Linked DNA regions of Homo sapiens: regions 1 and 2 are each linked to region 3. Evidence: fine-mapped expression QTL. A gene starts in region 3. Each other region holds a variant in brackets. All regions are shown on one strand. Distances are from middle to middle.

Region 1 (2,753 bases), 27 kb after region 3:
TCTTTTTAGGGAAAGGGAGATGAGGAAATGTGGATGATGTTAGGTGGTAGGAAAGGATTTTTAGGATGATTCAATGAACTTGAAGAGCATACAATGGCCTGGGGACAAAGTCTGATGGGGCCGCAGAGCAGGCATGTCCAGGTGTGTTGACAGACCACAGTCCTCTTCCTGCGACAAGAATTCAGTTAATGGAAACTCAGGGAAGGGAGTCGAGTAGCTGTTCTTGGGCGGATATGAAACAATCCCCAAGATACAGAGTTAAGAAAAAATCAGAGAGGCCCAGAACTGTGTGAATACCAAGTTTTTATTAGTGCAATAAAAGGGGAGGAGTGTGCTTCTTATGTACACAGAGGACTTTTTTTTTTTTTTTTTTTTGAGACAGGGCGCTGCTCTGTTGCACGGGCCGGAATGCTGTGCCACCGTCATAGCTCACTGTGGCTTTGAACTTCTGGCCTCAAGGGATCCTCCCACCTCAGCCTCCCGGGTAGCTAAGACTACATGTGTGTGCCACCACACCTGGTTAATTTTTTAATTTTCTGTACAGACTGGGTCTCTCAATATTGCCCATGCTAGTCTTGAACTCCGGGGCTCAAGGGATCCTCCGGCCTCAGCCTCCCAAAGTGCTAGGATTACAGACATGAGCCACCATGCCTGGCCATATAGAGGACTTCTAAAAGGAAACACAAGAAGCCAGTAGCAGTGTCACCTCTGGAGACAGAGATTAGGAGAGCAGAGGTCTTGCTTGCTTTTCATTGTGTATGCTTTTCATCTCTTTCCATTTTCGTCATGTGCTTTTATTACTTTTTCAATTAAAAGCAGTTAATGATAAATCAGGGAAAACAAGTTGGAAGCAAGACATTTTTACCTTAAAGGAATATAAAGAACATTAAACTAGAAAGAGAAAATGGAAAACAAAGCAGCAAGCATTCAAGCATTATATATATATAAAAATAGTGGGGAGACACAGGGCTGTAAAACCGAATCAAGCATGGCTAAAACAGGAAAAATAACAGGGGAATAAAGAAGGCAGAAGGCAAAACATAGCAAGGGGAGGCAGACACAGCCAAGAGTCCTCTGAGGAGGGGGTAGGTTGGACACTGGGTGCCCATGGGTTCCCCCCGAGGGATGCCTGAAGCTGAGTCACATGGAGCTGGC[G/A]GAGGCTCAGAGGCAGAAAAGGAGGACAGAGAGAATCCAGGCTGAAGCGGGGAACCACTGTGTGGCGGGTGCAGAAGCTCCCCCAGGTCAACTCTCTGTGGCCCTGTGGCTGTGGTTTGGAGAACGATGGCTGGTGTGGAAGTGGATGTTAAGCCCCGGACCTTAGAACACCTGTTCCCACGGACATGAGAAAGCAGGCTTGGGACAGGCCGTTGAGAAAGCAGGCAGCACTCAGGGAAGGCCAGCAGCTCTGAACAGACATCTGCTGTCACACTGTGCAAGGCTTGGTTTCATTAATGACCCCATGTGACAAAAAGAAGCAGTGGCTCCCATGGTTTCATGGAACTCAGGTCCTCTCCTCTCTCCAGTCACAGAGAGCCCCGTGTAGACTCTTCATAAGGTGGAACCCGAAGAAGGAGACACTGGGTCTCGGGAAAATGGAATGAAGGAGATGTTGTTGTATTTGGAACCTAATGTGGAGGAATGGGCCATATAAATAACTGAATAGAGGCAGGGTGTGGTGGCTCATGCCTGTAATTCCAGCACTTTGGGAGGCCGAGGCAGGAGGACTGTTTGAGTCTGGAATTTCGAGACCAGCCTGGGCAACATAAAGTGACCCCATCTCTACAAAAAATAAGAATTAGCTGGACATGTGGTGGTGCACCCAGCTACTCAGGAGGCTGAGGTGGGAGGATTGCTTGAGCCCAGGAGTTCGAGGCTGCAGTGAGCTATGATTGCACCACTGCACTCCGCCTGGGTGACAGAGAGAGACCCTGTCTCTTTAAGAAAAAAAAAAGTGAGCGTTTCACTAGGAATGAGGGAAGTTTTTTTTTTTCTTTTTTTTTTTAGATGGAGTCTCGCTCTGTCGCCCAGGCTAGAGTGCTGTGGTGCGATCTCGGGTCACTACAACCTCCGCCTCCCAGGTTCAAGCGATTCCCCTGCCTCAGCCTCCCGAGTAGCTGGGATTACAGGCGCCATCATACCTGGCTAATTTTTTGAATTTTTAGTAGAGATGGGGGTTTCACCATCTTGGCCAGGCTGGTCTCGAACTCCTGACCTCAAGTAATCTGCCTGCCTTGGCCTTCTAAAGTGCTGGGATTACAGGCGTGGGCCACCACGCCCAGCCGGAATGAGGGAAGTTTGAACTCCAAAGCTAGAGTCCCTTGGTGTCTTCCGTCCTGGTCTCTTTTGTCCCAAAGTTGAGGGAAAGGGTGGGCAGGGAGGAGAGGGAAGGAAGAAGATTGGGAAGGCCTTGAGCTCCCCCTTCAGGTCGAAGCCCGTGCAGGCTTTAGCAATGACAGCAGGCTAGGAGAGCAGACCTCAGGGTGTGGCTCGTGGGCCCCCAGGTCTCCTAGAGCCTTTGGGGAAAGGGGGGTTGGGTTGAGAGGTTGAAACTATTTTCATAACAATGCTAAGACATGATTTGCCTTTTTAACTTTGTGGACACTTGCACTGATACCGCAAAAGCAATGATGGATAAAGCCCTACCCGTATCACTTAAAAATATCCTAGATAAACCAATAAAAATAATTAATTTTATTAACTCTCAACTCTTGAGTACATGTCTTTTCAACATTCAGTGACAAAATAGGAAGTAT
Region 2 (2,753 bases), 69 kb before region 3:
CATAGGAGACAACTAATGTGTATTTCACAGGGAACATGTATAATACTTTGGAACATACACAATTCCGAGAGGTGTAACATACCAGAGACCTTTGCTTTTTCCTTTGCTTTGCTTAATGCCTTAAACTTTCCTAAGTGCTCCTCCGTACATTAACATGTGAGCCTTCAAAGTAGCTGGGAGAGGCTATCCATACGTTTTGCTGCCAAGAAAAACAGGCCCAACACTTTACAACAGAATAATGGCAGGACCAGTGTGAGAATCCTGGTTTTCTGGTAGGCTGGTTCCCTGACATCCTGGTTCAGCAACGTATCATCCTTAAAAGATATATAAATGTTGGCATGACTACCCAGCCTTTCCAACACCCACAGCCAGTGAAACCCAGTTACTGAAAAATGATGGAAAGTACCAGCATCAGTAATTTCCTTCTGTGTATATGATCTCAGTGGCTGAGGAATTGCCTAGTAGCCTAGTAAAGACGGACTCTGAAAACTGTCCTGTTTCTGTAGTAGTATTTATTAGTAATCCATCTCAGCCGGGCTCAGAGGCTCACACCTGTAATCCCACCACAATGGGAGGCCAAGGCAGGCAGATCACTTGAGGCCAGGAGTTCAAGACCAGCCTGGCCAACATGGTGAAACCCCCGTCTCTACTAAAAATGCAAAAATTATCCAGGCGGTGGCGCATGCCTGTAATCCCAGCTACTCAGGAGGCTGAAGCAGTAGAATTGCTTGAACCCGGGAGACAGAGTTTGCAGTGAGCCAAGATCACACCACTGCACTCCAACCTGGGCAACAGAGCAAGACTCTATCTCAAAAAAATAATAATAATAAAAGATCCGTCTCACAGTAGGCAGGGTAGGGGACTCAGTAATTCTGTACAGAAAAGAAGCAGTGCTTCTGTGTCACTCTTGCTCCGTCTATGCATCCCATCCACCATCCTGTTAGAACGGCATTGTTTATTAAAAGTCCCAGGCCTGGGGTGAGGAGACCTGAACCCTGATGCCCCCCTCTGACACTGTGTAATTTGGGTGAAGTTACTGCACCTTTGTGAATCCGCCTTTCTTTTTTATTTTTATTTATTCATTTATTTTTTGAGACGGAGTCTCGCTCTGTCGCCCAGGCTGGAGTGCAGTGGCGCGATCCCGGCTCACTGCAAGCTCCGCCTCCCGGGTTCACGCCATTCTCCTGCCTCAGCCTCCCGAGTAGCTGG[G/T]ACTACAGGCGCGTGACACCACGCCCGGCTAATTCTTTTGTGTGTTTTTAGTACAGACAGGGTTTCACAGTGTTCGTCAGGATGGTCTCGATCTCCTGACCTCATGATCTGCCCACCTTGGCCTCCCAAAGTCCTGGGATTACAGGCTTGAGCCACCGCGCCCGGCCGAATCCGCCTTTCTTTTTAATCTGTATGAGGTGTTGGGTTGTCTTCTGATGTTTCCATCTGTGTCCTGTGTGATCGTAGATACTGCATGCCACTCTCTGTCCAGCACGTGATGCCCTTTGCAACCTCCTTTCTCACCCACCCTGGGGCTTGGGAGCTGGAGATGGGGGAATAGGGGTGGTCAGTGAAATATTAAAAATCAGACTCCTATAGACACAGTTTGCAGGTGTTATATGGAGTTCCTTCTACTGTTTCATTCTACTGCATTACATTTTTATGTTAACTTAATAGGCTAATATTTTATGAACTTGTAAGATTGAATATATGGAATGAAATCAATGTTTCTGATAATTACTTGATGGGGTGGGGAGTTTCAGGAGAAAGTCATTTAAAACCTCCAGACTGATATTGATTAAAATTAGTGGCTTAAAGATTTAGAATATCTAATTTATAGGGTTTTTTTCTTGGTTGACTCTATAACTTAGGTAAAAAAATGTTTCCGTAGCTTTTATGATAACATTTAGCAGGTAATTTTCTTTACTAGATGTAGGGAAGAGCCAGCAATTTACAATCAGAGCATTCCATATATCCCTGTTTAGGGCGTTTCAGGGTTTATTGCTGCAATTTAGCATTTTTATCTGGGATGTTCAACTTCTAAGGGACGGGCTCTCTGTTTGCTGTTTTAAAATTATTAGAGTCTTTCATTGTATCTGTCTGTATTCACAGCATATATGGTCATTTCATTTGAGTGTTCATGAACAGCCCTCAATATATCAGTGATTACTTTATGTGTCGAGCACCGTACAACAGTGGTTGCCAGTTCTGACTACACATCAGGATGTATTTTTGAAGACTTACAGAGGTGATTTTGTTGAGCATCACTGTTGAAAACCACAGGTTTTCCAAGAGTGTCCGTGTGTATTTCACATGGCTTTACTCGTCAGGAGGTACTGGTGATTGCCTCTTTCACAAAAGAGGAAACTGAGGCTCTGGAAGGTTCTGTGAGTTGCCCCCGGTCACACCGAACAGCAGCACTTCATCAAGTTAGTTTCCAGATGTCCAGCTTCTCTCTGCCCAGCTGGGCAGGCACAAGAGACTTGCTGTGTTATGACCTGGTGTCTTAGTTTTGTTTAAGATTAGCAAGGGCGCCAGGTGTGGTGGTTCACACTTGTAATCCCAGCACTTTTGGAGGCTGAGGTGGGCGGGTCACTTGAGGTCAGGAGTTTGACAGCAACCTGGCCACCATGGCAAAACACCATCTCTCCTAAAATATAAAAATTAGCCAGGCGTGTTGGTGCACACCTGTAATCCCAGCTACTCAGGAGGCTGAGGCAGGAGAATTGCTGGAACCCAGGAGGCGAGGCAGAGCTGAGATCACA
Region 3 (2,753 bases):
AGGCTGCAGGCCCGGGGGCAGGCACAGCGAGAAGTGGAAGCACTCGGCGCCTGGCTCTTTCTTGGCATCCCCGGACCCTGGCTCGGAGGCCCCAGACGGTGCCTCTGGCTGCTGTGGCTCCAGCGGCTCGGGCTGCAGCTCAGCCGGCACGTCCAGGAAGGAGCGCCACTCGGTAAAGGTGTAGCGCACGGTCACGGCCCTGGGCCCAGGGCAGCTGAGCACCCGGCCGGAGCCCTTCACCTCAGCGCCCGAGGCCGTCGAGCACTGCACGCGCTCCAGGCACACGCGCTGCCGCTGCAGACGCTCGGCCGCGGCGCTCGGCCCCGGGAGCTGGAAGAGCGGCCGGAGCCGGGAAGGCGGCGCTGAAAGGGGCGCGGCCACTGCCGCCGCGGCCAGCAGCCCCCCGAGCTGCTCCAGGTCCTCGGCACGCATAGGGAAGCTTCGGAGGCGCGAGAGCACGGCGGGCGGCACCTGCGGCTCCTCCGCCTCGCTGAAGTGCTTCACGCTGGCCAGGCTTAGCCCCAGCGTGTCCGCGAACTGCACCCGCTTCTTGCACTTGGCGCAGCAGCCGCCCGGGCCGAGCTGTGCGTCCTCCGCCCCCTCGCCGCCCAGTGCCACCGCCTGTTGCTGCTGCTGCTGCAGGAACTTGGCCGCCTGCAAGATGGGGTCGGCGGGCAAGGAAAAGGAGCGCGCGCGGCAGCGGCGGCGGCATTCCAGCAGCTCCTCCTGCTCCTGGGGGGCGGCCTCTTCCTTCGGGGACAGGGGCCTATCCCCTAGCTGAGCGTCAGGACTCGGGGTCTCCGAAGCGCCACCGCCGTCGCCGCCACCCTGCACACAGGGGACCACCGGGGCGGGCAGCTCCTCGGCCGGCGGGGCCTCTCGGAAGGGCGCTGGTCCCGGCGCCTCCAAACTTAGCCGCGCCCCTATGGGCTCCATGACGCCGTTCGCCCCTGGACTTGCTCGGGCCGAACCGGGCCCCTCTGGAGACTTAACTAACTCCTCGGGCCGTGGAAGGAGCGCAGGGCTGCAGTTCAGGCTCGCCCTCCCCGAGGCGAGTCGCCCCAGGCTCGACAAGACAACGTAGTTCCACTTTGGAGCCTCCGGCTTTTAGCTGCGGCTGCCCAGGGCGAAGTGGGAGGAGGATGCGGGCCTGGGGCCGGCTCCGGGGCCACGCCGCCTCCCGGTTGAACCTGCCCGCGACGGGGGAGGGCCGGGGGCGGGGAGGCGCGGCCGCTGGGACACCTGGAAGCCGTGTTCCCGAGTGCTCCGGTGGAATGCGGGGGGCGACTTTCTGTCGTTCGCGGGCTCCCTGCAGCCCTCACCCGCACCCCCGGCGGGGCTCGCGTCTGTTCCGCTTCTTGAGTGCCTCGAAGTGGGGGTGCAGAGCTCGCGCTCAACCTTCAGAGACCCCCACGTGCACAAAGTCTTCCTGCCCATGAACTTGGCCTGACGGCTCTGCCCCCAGAGGGTCACTGAGCGCTCTCCTCTTGGCTGCCTCACGGGCTGGGGAGTCCCCGGTGCAGCGCGCAACTGGGGAAATCTTGCCTACGCAGAGGCTGGAAGGAGGCCCATTCCGCGCCGCCGGAGAGCGGGGAGCGCATCCCTTCCCTTCTGCTCCTGCTTTCCCCAAACTTCAGGGCGCCCCGGGTTCCAATCCCACTCGGAAGCCTGACTCGGTCAGGCGCGCTCCGCTCTGCTCTTCCGAAAGCCGGGAGGCAGGAGCCGCCGCCCCCATCTGCCCAGTGGCGGCGCGGGGTGGGCTGCGGCCAGACTGGGGCGGGGACCGTGTGGGGACGCGCCGGGGAGCGGCCATGGCCCGCAGCCGAGAGCGGCCGGAGGCCATTCGCGCCAGGCCCGGGAGCACGTCCCGCCCCTCCCCCTGTCCCGCCCGACGCGCCCGCGAGTCCGCGCCCCGGGATCCCGCAGGGAGGGCGGAGAGGGGGCCCCGTGGGGCCGGCGCCCACGCGGCACGCACCACCTCCCACCGCAACCGGACGCCAGCGCCCCAAGCACCCTCCCCGCCCACCGGGAGTGGGGGCGTGGCCCGCGCCGGACTGCGCTGTCACCGCCCTGCTGCTCCGGCCTTGCCAGGGGCCAAGGCCCGAACCTGAGGCCGGGGAGGGGTGGGGAAGCGCGTCGTGGTACCTAGGGATTGGGGGAACGTCTAAAAGTGGTGTTTTTCTTGTTTTGGTTTTAAGGCCACCCTGAGGGCCATCTAAGTCAGTGATTCTACTTCAGCATGCACGGACATCACTCGGGGGCCCGTTGTCACATCACAGGGCCCCACTCCCAGAGTTTCCTTCTTTCTAACTTTTTCGAGATAGGGGTCTTGCTATGCTGCCCAGGTTGGTCTCAAATTCCCGGCCTCAAGCAGTCCTCCCGCCTCAGCCTCTAAGGTAGCTGGGATTACAGGCGCCCCCCACTGCTCCCAGCTCCCTAGCGTTTGTGACTCAGTGGGCTTGGGCTGGGGCCTGGAAGTATTTCTAACAAGGGGATGCTGATGCTGGGCTCTGGGGACCGTATTTAAACCTATGTGGATGTGTATTCAGTTACTTATATAGAAAGTTGGGGATTCTAGAAACAGAACCACTAATTAAGAAACGTAATTAATTGGGGCTTCATAACTAAAACATGTCATGGTTTGGCAGAACTGAAAGGGGCCAGGGTTTTAGCCATGTTGGCAGAGGGCAGGCAAAAGAGATGGTGGGTGAGGAGCGTGTTAAGAGCTTACATTGATTGACTGAGCACCTACA

Evidence for each region.
Region 1: its variant is fine-mapped to the expression of PPP1R3G in tibial artery (GTEx, PIP above 0.99).
Region 2: its variant is fine-mapped to the expression of PPP1R3G in whole blood (TOPMed, PIP above 0.99).

What each region holds. Positions count from the first base shown.
Region 1 is chr6:5,056,963-5,059,715 of GRCh38, reverse strand. The region is part of intron 2 of LYRM4-AS1 (LYRM4 antisense RNA 1); the gene reads right to left. It also overlaps a transcript of LYRM4 not described here. Among named protein-coding and RNA genes, the nearest start is that of PPP1R3G, 27 kb to the left of the region's middle. RefSeq lists enhancers at 2,193-2,252, 2,313-2,362. The variant G/A (reference allele first, on the strand shown) is at 1,156.
Region 2 is chr6:5,153,158-5,155,910 of GRCh38, reverse strand. The region is part of intron 2 of LYRM4 (LYR motif containing 4); the gene reads left to right. All of the region lies in intron 3 of LYRM4-AS1 (LYRM4 antisense RNA 1), which reads right to left. Among named protein-coding and RNA genes, the nearest start is that of MIR3691, 6.2 kb to the right of the region's middle. The variant G/T (reference allele first, on the strand shown) is at 1,210.
Region 3 is chr6:5,083,669-5,086,421 of GRCh38, reverse strand. PPP1R3G (protein phosphatase 1 regulatory subunit 3G) reads right to left here and starts at 1,081. Exons shown (of 1, transcript NM_001145115.3): 1 at 1-1,081. The coding sequence starts at 936. The region is part of intron 3 of LYRM4-AS1 (LYRM4 antisense RNA 1); the gene reads right to left. It also overlaps a transcript of LYRM4 not described here. RefSeq lists silencers at 330-559, 590-639, 780-879, 1,130-1,309, 1,720-1,999 and 1 more and an enhancer at 110-799.